2 separate regions of the Homo sapiens genome follow, and region 2 is linked to region 1. The links come from fine-mapping of genetic effects on gene expression. Tissue or cell type: whole blood. Region 1 holds a variant in brackets; the other region holds the start of a gene. All regions are shown on one strand. Distances are from middle to middle.

Region 1 (8,247 bases):
GAGGATGTTTATGATTGCCACTTAAAATCTGTTTCAGATAATTTCAACATCTGTGTCATCTCAGTGTTGGTATGTATCAGTTGTCTTTTCTCATTCAAGCTGAAATTTCCCTGGTTCTTGGTTTGACAAGTGCTCTTTTTATTGTCCTGGACACTGGAAGAATTATCTTATGAATCTCCAAATCTTATTTAAATCTTCTTTTTTAGCAGGCCTCCACTGACACCACACTGGTGGAGAAAGGGGCACATCACCTGGTTACTGCCAGGTCAAGGTGGCAGTCCAGAGATCCTGGCTTCCCACTAGGGCTTTGCTCACAGGAGAGGGGATTTTTTTTTTTAATTGTGGTGCTTGGTTTCTGTCTTTTTTAGAGTGAACCTTTCCTGTCCTTTGGCTAGAGGTAACAGGCTTTTTTCAGGGCTTTTTTGTGTGTGTCTGTCACAGTTGGCATTTCTGGCTTGCTGGCTTCTTTAGCACACAACATTCAGGATATAGAGGCAGCAAAAAGAAAACTCAGGGTCATAGTATTCCTCAGTTGCCAAGGTTCCTAGTCAGTTGGCCTTCTTCTCTCCACCCTTCAGACTCTTATCTTTGTTTTATACATAATATTCGGAGTTTTTAGTTATACTTTGTGGGAGGAATAAGAAGTGCATCTATTCCATCTTGTCAACTAGAAGTCAGCCCATCTGGCTGGGCGCGGTGGCTCACATCTGTAATCCTAGCACTTTGGGAGGCTGAGGCGGGCTGATCACCTGGGGTGAGGAGTTCGATACCAGCCTGGCCAACATGGTGAAACCCTGTCTCTACTAAAAATACACAAATTAGCTGGGCGTGGTGGTGCACGCCTGTAATCCCAGCTACTCGGGAGGCTGAGGCACGAGAATCGCTTGAACCCAGGAGGCAGAGATTGCAGTGAGCCGAGATCATTGCACTGCACTCCAGCCTGGGTGACAGAGCTAGACTCTGTCAAAAAAAAAAAAAAAAGTCGGCCCACCTGGAAATTGGTTTTTATTAAAGACTGAAATTTGACATGGTGGCTCTTTATGTAAGTAACCTGTTGTGGAGGCTAAAGTAACTCCATCTTGGATGCTAATCCACTATGTTGACTTGTGATTAACCCTGGTTCCAGGAATGCCTCTGAGATTTCCAGTTCATCTATTGTTCCTTGTGTTAAGAGCACATCCTTACCATAAATCCTGCCCTTAGATCAAACTCCTACTCATTCCCTCTGAAACACGTGTACCTTTTCCTGTGGTTTATAATCCCTGGGTCTGGGGGTGGGGGGTAATGGTGTGGAGATCTATCTGCCTTGCAGCTGCTCAAGACCATACTTCTGTCCATAAGTTCCCCGATAAAATCACCCTGTGATGACAAGCTGGACTTATCTGCCTCCTTCTTTGGTTTCTCAGCCCCTTCTGCATTTGGGGGTCACTTTGCTTATATAGCCCTTTCATGAAACATGTGTACTAGCAAAATACTAAAGATTTATAGAAAGGGGTTGGGCACAGTGGCTCATGCCAGTAATCCTAGCACTTTGGGAGGCCAAGATGGGTGGATCACTTGAGGTCAGGAGTTCGAGACCAGCCTGGCCAACACGGTGAAACCCCGTCTCTACTAAAAATACAAAAAATTAGCCAGGTGTGGTGCTGCACACCTGTAGTCACAGCTACTCAGGAGGCTGAGGCAGGAGAATTGCTGGAACTCAGGAGGTGGAGGCTGCAGTGAGCTTAGATCATGCCACTGTACTCCAGCCTGGGCAACAGAGTGAGACTCTGTCTCAAAAAAAAAAAAAAAAATTATAGAAAGGCCTCAAAGCATTTCTGAAATTAGCTTTTCCTTAATGCTTAGTGTGAATCTTTATTGCACATTTTAAATCATCTTGAAACTGCCTTTCCCAAACTTTGCATCAGTGGTTCTATTAAGCTGATGGACAGTTTCACTCCATTAGAAAATGTCAAATTTGGTACACATCCAGGATCAGAGGAAGGATCACAGGAGAGCAAGAAACTGGTGACAGGACTAGTTCAGACACACTAGAGTCAGCCCACTTTCCACTGCTCACATAGAGTGACACAAGCAATGTGTTTAAATGAAAGAAGAAAAAAGTTCAGGTGCCACAAAGATAGAAAGCTGGACTCACTGCCTATCTACAGCCTCAGTTTTATAGAATCGTCAGTTGCTGTTGGCGTTTTGCACATATGAACTGGTACATAAGTGAAGAATGGATGGGTACGTGGTTGGTGCCTAAAGGTACGGTTTCAATCCCAGTTCCTCCTACACACTACCCAGAAGGTCCCAGAAAGCCCTGTTCTCCTCAGCAGGCGCTCCACAACAGCAGCTGCAGAAAGCGCAGCCATGCTAACAGAGGCGCCCCCGGAGTTTTCCCATCTTCACCCTCACCCAACACCTCTTGGGTCATTTTCTCCTGGTCTGTCTTCACAAGCCAGAAATGGTTGATACTGATTCGGTATGGGTTTGGAAGATTATAGGTTTCTGATTTAAAAGGCCTTATGTCATCAGGGTCCAACAGACTTTCTTTCTGGGGATTTCTGTGTTCTGAAGTTCAGACGTCCTTTGTTCCTTCCCTTCTAGGTCAGTCACCACGAACAGGGGCACTCGGCATGCTGCCCCAGCACTGGAGAAGCAGCGCTGTGGGGGCAATCTGTCACACTCTCAGAGTCTGGGACTTGACTTGCTACCAACAACTGCTGTGCAATTCTGCTGAGCAGGAATATCATGAGCTGTTCAATAATGACGGACGCATTGGTTGAGATGAAGTTTCCAGTAAGGAAGTGACAGTGCAATGTGGATATTTATGGCTGTAAAATAGGAAGAGCTTTAGTTCCCAGGCTGAACCTGCCACTGCTGGAGCCATTTCAACAAGGCATCCTCACAACAAAGAAGAGATGTGATTTGGTACCATTTCACACCAGCAGGTGTCTGGACGAAAACATCAATGTGAATAAGGGCCAAGTGCAGTCCTGTCTTGATTAAATTACTTAATAATATTATTAAATAATAATAGGTCTGGGCAGTATTGTTTTTAACCTGACTCATCCAGCTGTCCTTCAAATAGCTCCGTCTCCCTCTACCCAGAACTGATTTTTAAAAAGAAGTAATTTTTCTCCCTGGGCTGGGAAAACCCTAATGAACTGAAACACACTTTTACTTTAAAATTTTTCTGTCTGGCGTTTTTGTAATCATACTATTAAATGACTCTGGAGTCATGTTAATGACAGGATTTGTTTTGTTTGGATGCAGTTCAATTGCATGGTTTGGGTAAAAGCTAGCCTACATACAAAGGAATATGAAGACTGTGGAAGAAACTGTATATTGGGTTTAAGAATTTCAGCAATTATCCGGTAAAAGAAGAACTTAAGCATTAAGCTGCAATGTCAAATCCACTTGCTTCAGTCTTACTAGCTGATGTTGCCAACAGTTGGTGATGCCTTTTTCAGGGTTCTACATTCAAAGCCTGTTAAAGATGGTTACAGGCAAGGAGGAGTCACAGGCAGAGGCTAAAGTATATCTATCATCTTTTAACCCTAATGCACATTTTAGAAAGTCTCAAAAATCTGTTGCTGTGATTTTTACATCTTGTGTTTTTTGAGACAGAGTCTCGCTCTGTCACCCAGGCTGGAGTGCAGTGGCACGATCTTGGCTCACTGCAACAACTTCCACTTCCTGGGTTCAAGTGATTCTCCTGCCTCAGCCTCCTGAGTAGCTGCGACTACAGGTGCATGCCACCATGCCTGGCTAATTTTTGTATTTTTAGTAGAGACGGGGTTTCACCATGTTGGCCTGGCTGGTCCTGAACTCTTGACCTCAGGTGATCCACCCACCTTGGCCTTGGCCTCCCAAAATGCTGGGATTACAGGTGTGAGCCACTGTGCCCAGCCCTATTTTAAAACTGAATTTCTTCAAGCATCTAAATCAGAGGCTGGCAGAAACTTTTTCTGTTAAGGCCCAGATAGTAAATAGCTGTTTACTTTTTATGGGCCATATGATCTCTGTTGCAAC[G/T]CCTCAGCTTTGTCATTGTAGCAGGAAAGCAGCCACAGACAGTAAGCAAATGAATGAGCCTAGTCATGCCAATAAAACTTTATTTACAAAAAAAGGCAGTGGGCTGGACTTGGTTCAGGAGCCAGCTGTAGTTTGCCAACCCCAGGCCTAAAGAAAGCTGGAGAGGAATAGCTTACACCCAGAAAAGAACCTCTCAGTGAGGGAAACAGACTAAGAATAGTATCACACTACAGCCTTCTACCAACAGATGATACTTTACTTTAAAATACAAAACAAAATTAGCTCAGCCAGTTAGTTGTTTTATTTTGAGTTTTGTTTTTTTAAAAAAAGAAAAGCTTTGAGAAAATGTGTTAAATATCAGTAAAGGGCAGGAACACACATGGCTAGCTTTACAATAGCAATCTAAACATACACAAAGGCAAACATTGAGTAAAATGCTAGGGAAAGACGGCACTTTGGGGGCCTACTGCAGTTTTCCTTATTGCACATAAAGGTTGTGGATAACGCCAAGTCTTTAATTTTTCACAGTTATACTTTAATGTCATTTTATATAACGTTTATTTATATAACATACTATAATGTTAATTTTATAAAACCACCAGTTTGCTACTGTTGAATGGAAATAGAAGACAAAATTCTCCCCAATTACACTATGTAAGCTCTCTATAAAAAGTTCCCTAGAAGGTCACATCATTCCATGTTAAATTCGTCCTATTCTATTTTAAAAGTTGCTTTTCAGCTATTAAATGAATCTTTATGGCCTTCTCATTTAACCATTTTCATGGACATAGTACAACTTTCCAAGTAAAAAGTACCAGATGTATTTTATGTGAAAAACAAAAGGACAACTTAGGAGGAGCTGGCCCTACTATGAAGTCACACTTTGAACGATCAATTTCAGTGGTAAATTCCCAATCCATAGACTTAACACCCACACAACTGAAAATCATCCCTCTGCTTCTCCAAAGCCCACAATTGGAATAATCACAACACAAGTCAGCCCCTAAATGTCCATGCAGTTAAGTCATCCAGTAACACCTGAATTGTAGCCTTTTTTAAGTGCTTGAGACAGCAGATGTTGAGGTTTCCATGCTGTTTACAAGTCCTTTTCTATCTGAGTTCCTCCAACATATACAGGCCCAGACAATTTTCCACTGGCCAAGAGCTGACTGTGACACTTGGTGATTCTGTTAAGCCTTTTGAAAGGTGGTCATCAGAAGGAGAAGGTGACTTCTGCTGTGTGCGCTCCTGTCTGCTTTGGACCTTTTCAAAGGGCAGCACAGCAGGCAGCCCTTCCTTCTCATCTTCTCCAAGGCTCAGGTAGCAGAAAACCGGCTGCCTGTGTGTTCCATATGGGCCACGACTATAGTATACCCTGCTTACAAAAATAAGACTAACATCAAAAACTTTGGTTTTGCTCTTTACAATTTTTGCTAGCACTGGGTGACAAGATGTGTTTAATTTTTTAAAAATGTCTATGAAAATTGACACTGGAAAAAACTGTTTATCTCTAGGTCTTGTTTTGAAAGGATTGTTGATGAGTCTACTTGCTTTTCCTAGTTAAGACACTAGCAATGGTTTCTACAGTATTTCTCTATATGTTGTTTTCAGGTTTTAGAAAGGGGGATGATCTTTTCAGGTATCAAAGTGGTAAAAGCAGTATTCAGATGGGTTGTTTCTAAACTACAACTCTTGGCCACTAGATTCCTTTGACTTACTGTATCAGAATGTAGCAGCCGACACTGGCAATCCAGAGTGTCAGTTAAAGAACAACAGAATAGCTCAGAACTCAATGATACCAGTCTAATGTATATGAAAGACTTGTTCCTGAACTAATTAATCTATAGAATCAACATCAAAAGGCAGACAAGAAACTTGTCAAGTTCCCCACTTTTGAAGTGGAATAAGAAGTCATATACTTGTGAGATCAGCAGGCTGACTTTCTAGCAGCCCTCATTGCAGATAATCTTTCACAACAGATGGTAAAATCAGCTTTCTGATACACTCTTAGAACTCACAACGGGTGCACAGTAGGTTTCCAAGTGGGTGATTTTCACCTCTGATGAGATGCTCTAACACCCTGCCACTGTTTTTCCCCCTAAGTGCATCAGTGGTGTTTCTACATTTGGAAATTACTTGTTCACATTAAACATCTGGTATGATTACATTAACTTCTACTGCAGACAAGGACAGGGAGAGATAGGATGATGGGATGACGTCAAACAGACCAACAGACCTCTATTTTGGAAGGAACTGTTAGTTCTTTGTCCTAGACCGAATCGTTCATGGATAGCTGAGATACCCTTTTGCATGTTTTCTAAAGAGATTCCATTTGTCAGCCAAACCACAGAGGACATTTTCGGGTCTAGAGAACACAGCCTGAAGAGATCCTTGCTGTTTGCTTGATGAAACATTTGATGTCGCAGTGTGATTTCTGCCTTCCAGGCATCAATGCTTATTTGTCTGATCACCCCAGTAACCACCCTGGATGCTCGGATCCATATGCCCTTCCTGTGATTGTGTCCTAGGAAGAAATGTGGCCTTATTTAAATTCCAAATTTTCTTCCCTAGGAGAGAAAGTTCAGGTTTCTGGTAGTTCTCAAAAAGTGTACTAAAAGGAATAGCAGCTTTCATCTTCTCTCTGTCAGGGCTATACAAAAGTGTGCATCTCCTTAATTACCTGCTACGGAAACCACCACCATCACCATGTGATAGCAAAGGACCACAACCTTCTACTTTGCTCCAGCAGTAAATGGGCCCACCCTTATTCTGAGGAATCCAGTGTGGACTCAGGCATGAGGATAGGTGAAGGAAAAGAAAATCTGACTCCAGAGGGGACTATTAATTTAATTCCAGGTGAAATTAAAAAAAAAAAACAAAACAGCTTCCCAGAAACCTTCATGCTTGATTAGTTAGCAGCTCAGTTAAGACAATACCTTCCCTTTATTCCCCACAAGTGGGAACCAAGATGACAGGTTTTTAGTTCTCCCCATACATACCCCAAGTCACCCTTCTCTTTCCTCGAAGGCTCCAAGGTTTTCGTGATCTTTTCAGCTGTACTTTATGGAGTATGTTCTTGAGTTCTGCAAAGATTAGCATCAAACTCTCTCACAGCTGCCCTGTCTGTATTACTGATCAATACTCAGTTCGTTTCACATGACTAACAATTTAAAAAAACACCTTCATCTGCTGGGCCATTCTTTAAAATCAGATTCCAAATAGTCTAGAGGTCTGCTGCGAGCTCTAGACTAAAGGCTCTTGTCAATCCTGGCTGCACATCAAGAACACTCCTGAGGTTCCAAACAAAGCATGGATTCCAGGTCCCACCTGAAGCTACTGAATCTGAATCTCTGAGGGGAGGGCCCTTGCACTGATTTAAAAACAAAAACTGGCCAGATGATCCTAATTCACAGCCAGGGTTGAGAACCTCTGCTCTAGAACATCGGACTCGGCTGAACTGTCGTCCCCACCAACCCAGAACAAATACGTGTATAAGATGGACTTGGGTTTACTCTCTTGGAAGAACTTTGTTTATTTGGATGTACCATTACTTAGCAGTTTCAATCTGATCTTATGCCAGACTGGCAGCAGATAGTTGGCCTTGTGTTGAATGATGCCTGACATGGCATAGGCAAAATTCTTCTAGATGTGGAACCACTTGACGAATGGATTCACATTCCCAGGACCCCTGGTAAGGTCAGGGTTATTCTCCACATCTTACAAACAAAAATTAGGACCAAAGGTCAAAAATTAGGACCAAAGTGCCTTACTTTGATTCACCAAATATTTGTAATCAAATAAGGACTTAGAACACTGGAAAGCAGTTCTGATTCCAAATGGCTGACAGCTCGGGGTTAGTGACAAAGGCAAGAAAGGGAGACCAGCCTGCATTTCCAGCTTCCTAACACACAAAGAAAGGCCGGGGTAGGGTTACTGGGCAAATGCTGCAACTAGATTCTGGGCCCTCTCTTCCCTGGGTAGGACTTCTGGGTGGGCCTCCTGCCCTATACAAACCATCCCCAACCCACCTTGTTTACATTGGAACTACACTGTCGTAGACAGCAATTCAGGGAAGAGGACAAGCCATAATTAGGATTTCCTCCCTGTTTCCCCTGTCATCTCCACACAGGAAAACCCTGATGGGAAGCCCACCCCTCTAGTTTTGGTCTTGGCAATCTACATTTCCTTGTATGTGAGTAGATCAGAATCAAATGTTTGCAGTGAAGACTA
Region 2 (8,247 bases), 160 kb after region 1:
AATGAACTGGCACAGTCTGTTTATACCAACTTTCCCTGCCCTAAACACTTTCTATTTCTGCTGCAAAGACATGTAGGGCCCAGTAACTTTAGGATGGCACTTAATCACATAACAGAGACAGACAGCTGGGAGCTCCCTGGCCTGACAAAACAGGTTAGACTGGTGGCAGGCAAGTGCCTGGCCCCGCTGCCTTGCAGCTCCAGTGGTGGGGTCTGGGGGCTGCTTTCAACCTTCCTGGGGAGTTAGGTCTGTAGCTACCTTCCCTTGTAGCTGCCCTGGCCTGTCAGGGAGGAATGCTTATAAGTGTCCTTTGGTGGGTGGGGGAGTTCCTTTCTGTTTAAACGTTAAGCATTCACAGTGTGTCTTTTATTTTCCTTAGGTCCTCTGCATCCAAGCAAGCACTTATTATGGGGTCTATTTGTGCACATCACTGCTAATGTAACATTGACTACTCTCTGAGGATAATGGAATAAAGGGAAGGAAAAAGAGGGAGAGAGCGAGTGGGAAAGAGAGGGTGAGAGAGGGAGGGAGGGAGGGAGAGAGAGAGAGAAATCTCTTCCCCTTTCCCCATTTTATCTCCATCCCAGACACAGGGCTCAGAAAAGCTCCAAGGGCACAATTAAGAATTGAAAAGTCATGAAGAAAATTGATAACATAATGTGATTTAAATAGGGAGAAGTAGGCGTCAAATTGAGTGATTTGAGGAGCACGTTAAAATGCTATTACAGCCGGGTGCGGTGGCTCACACCTGTAATCCCAGCACTTTGGGAGGCTGAGGTGGGTGGAGGTCAGGAGTTCAAGACCAGCCTGGCCAAGATGGTGAAACCCAATCTCTACTAAAAATACAAAATTTAGCCGGGCATGGTGGCGGGCGCCTGTAATCCCAGCTACTCAGGAGGCTGAGATGAAGAATTGCTTGAATCCGGGAGGTGGAGTTTGCAGTGAGCCGAGATTGCGCTACTGCATTCAAGCCTGGGCGACAGAGTGAGACTCCGTCTTGGAAAAAAAAAAAAAAAAAAGCTATTACAAGACCAAGAAGCATACAAGGTTATATGGTGACCTCTCCCTCCCACTCCTATTTCACAGCCATCTAGTTCCTCTCCCCCAAGGAAACCAATGTTACTCATCTATTGCATGTCCTTCCAGAGATATTTTACGACTATACCAACAAATATATAAATTTATATATATATAAATTTATCTTAAATGTAAACGCTGTTCTTCTCAGATTAAAGTGTCACTTAAACACAAAAAGGTGGCAGAAATTACATTTTAAAACTTTTTCTCAAAATAAAGAGTTTTGAAATTCACAGTTGAACTCTTTCATTCATAAACATTTAAAAGTTAAATTGTTTGCCTCCAGAAATTAAGTTGGGTTCCCAGCACACAGTGGATACTTTAAAAATGTTTCCTTAGGTCTTTTTGTCGTTCCTTATTCAGAGCCAAGAGGACAATTACTCACTTCCTCTATTGATATAGAGAAATCAAATTTTATTTTTTACTATTAAAAAAGAGAAGTCTTGAAAAATCTTTACTGGATTTACTTGTGTTCAAAGATTTGCTTGACAGTAGTAATCATTTCATTGTGTTTATCAAAACATCATGTTGTACATCTTAAATGCAGACAATTTTTTAAAAGATTTGCAAACTGAATTTTAAGATCAGTTTAAAATCCCCATCCCAATAGTCTTCAGTATACTATGAATAATTAGCTAATCACATGACATTAGAATTCAGATTAGGGGGACCTTGCAGTAGAAGACCAAACATACCTGAGAGAAAGAAGAAATGTTTTCTCACAATTACAGACAGTCCTTAAAATATTAATATTTGGCATAACCTGAGACATCACATATTGACAAACTAAATTTCTTTATACATTTAAAGAAACACTAATACTCAAAGATATAGAACAAAATTACACAGGAATGCTGAGATGATATTGCCTTTTCTGAACAGCCATCAGTTACACTAGATTTGTAACTTGATTGTTCACAAAATAAAACAGTACACTGTAGCACAACCAAATGGCTGAAAGATGGAGGTGAGTTTTAAAAGTACGTATCAGCAAAGGAAAATTCCACTGTTGTCTTTAAGCCTTAAGATAAAGGTGATTGAACTCCTCAGAACACGGAGTACTCTCCAGAAAATATATTTTCAAATCCCCATTTATTTTCCATCCCTTGAGCATGTGTTTACGAATCTGACAAATCTACCTCCTATTTCACATTGTCCTTTAAGAAACTGGGTCTAGGGCCTATTAAATAAAAATATTTTCACGGTTATCTATATAAAGGCAATTTTCATTTGCATCATGGCTTGGAGTCAATCACCTGCAATGACCACGTGCTTCAATTCCCCCCTGTCTGTCTTCTCAGGAAACCTCCCAGCTTACCTGCAGGCCTGGCATCAGTCATTTATCACCAACTGACACAAACCACAGAGCTCAACAACGGTCAGGGATGGAGGCCAAAGTCTGTGTTGAGACCTATAATTCGCAATCACCAAACTCGGTTTTAGACCTGGTCCTGTTTCAAGATCTGTGTAGGTCACTACTTCATCAAAACTGGAGGGCTCTTAACAGCGCTTGCCCCTTACACGGTTTGGCTGCGAGGGCCTGGTGGCCATGAGCCCCGGCTGTCAACAACTAATCAAGAAACATGAGAAGCAAGGCCCAGAACCAAGGGTAATTTTCACATTAAAGGTTAAGGTTTCTGCTTTCCATTCTCTATCAGGGCACCTGGATGGAAACTGAATAAAGAAATCCCTCAGTATATGTGATAAAATAAAATTTTCCCCGTTGGGAACAATCATGAAGTGGCTCGTCTATTTCGTGTGAGGATGCCAATTCAGGGGCTTTAACACCACTGAATTACATTCAAAAAGAGAATACCTGACTCCACTTTGGAGTCATGGGCAGGGCGAGGGGGGAGGCAGGGGGCACAGAAGAGGAAGAGGGATGACTCAGATTATGGCTGACATCCATGTAATAAAGGGAGATTTGTACTGACCACTGTGCATGTAACACACTGTGTACCATTAAATCTAGAAAAGGATGGTAGCATCAGCCCACCCCTAACAACAAAAGATGGCTGACTCCGGAATTAAAACCACGACTTTTCCCCTTCATACATTCGGAAATGTATCTCAAACTCACTCCCTGTTACCGTCTTAGGAATACAAAAGCTCCTCTTCGTTTGAGAAAGCAAGTAACTGGGTATAACTTTCCACTCGGGACATAAGAGCAGGAGGCGTGCCTGTCTCCTCGTCCAGGCCTGACATGGTGGTGCCACCCACTCTGGGTCCTGGACCACTGCTCACCTTTCACCACACTTCATGCTCTGACTTTATCATTAAGAGACCTGGGAATGTGGACCTCAGGAGTGGGTACCCACCCAGGCTGACCATGGATGTGGCGTCCAAGAGGCCCCACTAACCCATACCCAAGCAAAGACACTTTCAGACTTCGTCCCCACTCCCTACTGTGGCCTGTCCCCTGAGGTGATGCAGTCACCTGGGAAGCCACCCACCTCCAGCCACCACGCAGGCACACACACCCTATCGAGCTCAACTGGAGCGGGAGGTGGTGGGTAAGAGGTTTGCAACAGAGACCGAACGGGGCAGACGGAACCGGACCACCTCTGTCCCTTTCATTTTCCTGGGTTCCCAATGCAGAAACGTGGAATAGGGGTGGAATTGTTTTTAACGGTAGCAGAGAGCCAGAAAATGCAGACAGTTGACCTTGGGAACCAACACCGTCGCAGCGGGAAACGTAAAAGAAACGGAACACGTTGGCAAGTGAAGGGGGAGCACCGCGCGGCGCCAGGAGGAGCGCGGCGGCCGAGGGGTGTGGAGGGCGGGGGGTGTAACAGGGGTGCTCACCATAGATCATGGCCAGCCCGGTCTCGTGCAGAAAGCGCACCCGGCGGTGCTTGAAGAGCCAGATGGTGAGGATGGTGAGCGTGAGCAGCAGGATGAAGGTGAGCAGGCTCACGCTGTCTTGCCGGTGGCTCTCCTCCGCCTCCTTCTCAGTAGCGAGCTCCTCCATGGCGCTGCTGTCCTCCGCCGCCGCCCCAGAGGAGGAGGCCGAGGCCGCGGCCGCGACTCGCAGCCCCCAACCCAGCAGCAGCGGCAGCAGCAGCAGCCGCGGCGGCGGCGCCCCGGTAGCCCGACCCGAGCCAGGGCGCGCCGCGTCACCAGGCTCCATGGTCCCGGGGCCCCCCGCGCCTCCTCCGAGCGGGGACCAGCAGCCCGCGCCGTCGGCGGGTTCTGGCAGCACCGCGGACCTGCCGGAGTGGCCGTGGCCGCTGCAGCTCCTCCTCCTACTCGCGCCGGGCCGGGGCTGCGCCCGGGGCCGCGCGGGGGAGGGGCGCGCGCAGTGCGCAGGATCCCCAAGCACCGCCCCCCGCCCGCGCACCTGTTCGTCCCCCGGCCGCGCCACGCCGCACCGCCCCGCGGGCCAACCGAGCCACCCAGGCGGGGCCGGGTGTTGCCCTCGGGTCTGCGGGCCGGCCGCCGGCTGCTTGCCTCTCTGCGCTTCTCACCCCGTCCTGGCGCACCTGCCCAGGCAGTCTGGGGTCGTGGGGCCAGTTCATGGGCAGCCGCCGCCGCACTTCCGAAAGGGGACGCCAGAGGTCGCCGGCGCCTAGCGGGAGCATCGGCTTGGAGTGACTAGCCTTGCGGTCTCGAGTCCCGTCTCTGGCGCCACGGCGAAGTGTTTAATCTCAGGCCAGTGTGCAGCCGCCCTGGGCCCAGTAAAGTGGGGGCTGTCAGTGAACCGAGCAGCCCCGAAGCCACGTTAGCCCCTACACCTCTCTTTCCTCATCTCTCAGGTTGCCCTTCCAGCCCCAGAATCTGCTAGGTTTCATTCAAACCTCTGTTCTCATCAGACTCAAATGTGAGGACTGATAAGGAGTTGGAATCGGGGGAGGGCATTGAAGTATCTCCTTCCTCACTTGAGGGAATAGACTTCGTCTGCGCTGTGCTACTAATCCCCTTGGGGAATAGGGTTGAACCAGAAGGAACTGAACGCTTGCCATTCCTGGTAGATGAGCAGTAGCTGGTCCTAAGGTGGTGGTGGGGGGTGGGGGTTACCCTGATGACCCTTTCTTTTATGTTGCTCACCTGGTAGCTCAGAGAGTCTTTTAATGACTCTTAAGACCAAACCCAGCTCTGAACAAAATTATGGCGTGGACTCTGAAGGATGAAGCCTCTTGGAACAAATTCTCAGGAAAACTAGAATCTTCAATCCACCTTGCTCCTCTGGTCAAGGAAGAAACAAGATCAGATTAATCACTGAGTTCCCAGTGCTTAGCACTGTACTCATGTGTTTATTGAACCACTCTGAAATCTCTACCAAAACTGCCCATGTTTTCGCTCCCAGGGGAGTTTGCATTTTTAAGAGGATTCATTGAAGAAGGTGATGCTTAACCAAATGAAATAATAGGGTAGAGGTAGCATTAGGTAAGAAAACTCTTTGGAGTACTGCAGCCTTCCTGGTTCCCCTGTAGGTGAGCACTCTGCCAAAGCTGTTTAGTGGTTTCTTTAAAGCAGGGAAATCTCTTCATCTACATTTTAGCTAGCCCCTTTCCCAACTCCTCTAGGCAGTCACTCAGCCCCTGCAAACATCCGTATACCTTGAAGTTCCACACAGGTTTCCAATAAAATTGCAAATACTTAAAACCTGGATGGGCACTGTGTTGGTCATAATATTATGCCCCTTTGGGTGCCCAGTACTCAAGGACAGAATTTCTCTCTTTAGAAAAGGGCAACTCAGGAGCTACCTTAAAAGTACAGACTTCTTAGTATTTGTGGCGGATTGTATTTTTTAAAAAGATGGCCACAATCATATTTCCAATCCCAGAACCTTACCATCCCCCATCAAGAAGGGGCATCTATGTTCCCTCCCCTTGAACCTCAGTGGACCTTTGTGACTCCCTCAAAGAATATAATGTGGTAATGGAGATTATGTGATTTGTGAGGCTAGGTCATAAAAGGTAATCTAGCTCCTGCCTGTTTCATTCTGTCACTTTCCACTCTAGCTAGGCTGGGCACGGTGGCTCACGCCTGTAATCCCAGCACTTTGGGAGGCCAAGGCGGGCGGATCACCTGAGGTCAGGAGTTCAAGACCAGCCTGACCAACATGGCAAAACCCTGTCTCCACTAAAAATACAAAAATTAGCCGGGTGTGGTGGTGTGTGCCTGTAATCCCAGCTACTTGGGAGGTGGTGGCACGAGAATCACTTGAACCTGGGAGGCAGAGGTTGCAGTGAGCCAAGATTGCACCACTGCACTCCAGCCTGAGTGACAGAGTGAGACCCTGCCTCCAAAAACAAAAAAACAAACAAACAGACAAAGAAATCTAGCTACCTGGAAGCTGACATACTGAAGAAACCATGTAGAGAGACCATGTAGCAATAGAGGTAGATGCCACAGGAGACCCAACTTTTTGAGTGTTCCCAGCCCAAATGCCACACATGTGAATGAATGAGTCTTCAAATCAATTCATTCCCAGCCACCATCTTACTGTAGACATATGAGAGGCCCCAAGCAAGAACCATGTCGCTGAACCTAACCAACATCTGCAACTGTAGCATAATAAAATGATTGGTGTTATTTTAAGCTACTAAGTTTGAGGGTGGTTTCTTCCACAGCAATAGATAACCAGAAGAGTATTTATTATGTAAAGTAGTTCCCTTGGGTAGAGTATGAAAAGACTAGTCCCAACCATTCACAAATACACACCAAAGAAAACACTCCATTATCTCTACATATTTATGTGTGAAAACTAACCTATATAATACAGGAGTTCTGATTTCAGTTAACACAGAATAATCACACTAAACCCATTACCTGCTACTGAATACAGCTATAAAATGTGAACAGAATGCATGCAGCAACTATTTGAGGACTCTGGAAAGTAAATTGTACCACATAAACTGAGGAAAAACAACAGAATTTGAAGTAAAACTGAACTGGCGGTGAGTTTACCATTTTTTTCCTCCAGTCTCCACTAGACTGGACTCAAGGCAGCTTAACACCCGGAAGGGAGCATCAACATGGACAGAGAGAGCTCCAGGAAAAGCAGAAAATTGGTCTCCTAATATTCAGAGAAAGTAGGAGAAATGTGCCATTTTTTTTCTTTTCTCCATTCTCTTACATTTTAGCCAATAAGCAATCCCACTGTGGCACCTCAGTCAACAGTGACAATGGAGACAGCAATACCTTCAAGCACCCAAAAAATGCTAAGGGAGGGGAGAACCTTCCTCTCTGTTTGAAGTAGCTCTGGTCCCAAGACAGTGGGGCCAAAACCTCAATGATATATATTTTTTCACTCTCTCTGTCCTGATGCTTGGCCCAAGACATGGGCAAAGTTTCAGGAAATACATAACAGAGAGGATTAAATAAAGACCCAGATTTCTGGACAGGCACAGTGGCTCACCCCTGTAATCCCAACATTTTGGGAGGCTGAGGTGAGTGGATTTGTTGAGGCCAGGAGTTGGAGAACAGCCTGGGCAATGTAGCAAGACCCTGTCTCTATGAAACATTTAAAAATAAAATTAGCTGGGCACTGTAGTGCTTGCCTGTAGTCTTGGCTACTCAAGAGGCTAAGGTGGGAGGCTCACTTGAGCTCAGGAGTTCGAGGCTACAGTGAGCTATGATCACACCACTGTACTCCAGCCTGGGCGACAGAGCGAGACCCTGTCTTTAAATAAATTAAATAGTCTAGATTTCTTGCCAATTGATTAAAAGGGGAACTCCAAGGCATTACAAAGTACCAAGGAGACAGTAGAGAGGAGAGGACCTTGGGAAAGGTCCTCATAAAGTTTTTATGAACTCCTAGGTTCACCCCAACCTGCACATGGATCTGATCCTAAACAGCATACCAAAGACTGTGATAACTGAACTAAGAGGCAGACCACCACCCAAGCCCTAGACTAGCCACTGGATAAAACACATGTAGGACAGATCTGAATAGCATTACAAACTTTTGAAAACTGAATTGACTTTGGAGCCACTATCCACAAAAGGCATGTCAGAACTTGTGATCTAAACCCAAGCATGTCTATTACAAACTAAAACAAAAATATGAATATTTCCCCATAGTATTAAAACAAGATACAAAGTCCTATAACATAATATTCAAAATGTCCAGGATACAACCCAAAATTATTCAATACCTGAAGAACCATGAAAATCTTAACTTGGGTGGGAAAAGGCAAACAACAGACACCACTGCTGAGGTGA

Evidence for each region. PIP is the estimated chance that this variant, and not a neighbour inherited with it, causes the effect.
Region 2: it holds the start of SLC9A7, and the variant in region 1 is fine-mapped to the expression of SLC9A7 in whole blood (TOPMed, PIP 0.91).

Annotation. Positions count from the first base shown.
Region 1 is chrX:46,595,171-46,603,417 of GRCh38, forward strand. It overlaps CHST7 (carbohydrate sulfotransferase 7), which reads left to right. Exons shown (of 2, transcript NM_019886.4): 2 at 2,590-3,326. It overlaps SLC9A7 (solute carrier family 9 member A7), which reads right to left. Exons shown (of 17, transcript NM_001257291.2): 17 at 4,081-8,247. Among named protein-coding and RNA genes, the nearest start is that of CHST7, 26 kb to the left of the region's middle. The variant G/T (reference allele first, on the strand shown) is at 4,018.
Region 2 is chrX:46,754,823-46,763,069 of GRCh38, forward strand. SLC9A7 (solute carrier family 9 member A7) reads right to left here and starts at 4,296. Exons shown (of 17, transcript NM_001257291.2): 1 at 3,883-4,296. The coding sequence starts at 4,207. RefSeq lists silencers at 4,068-4,207, 4,228-4,577.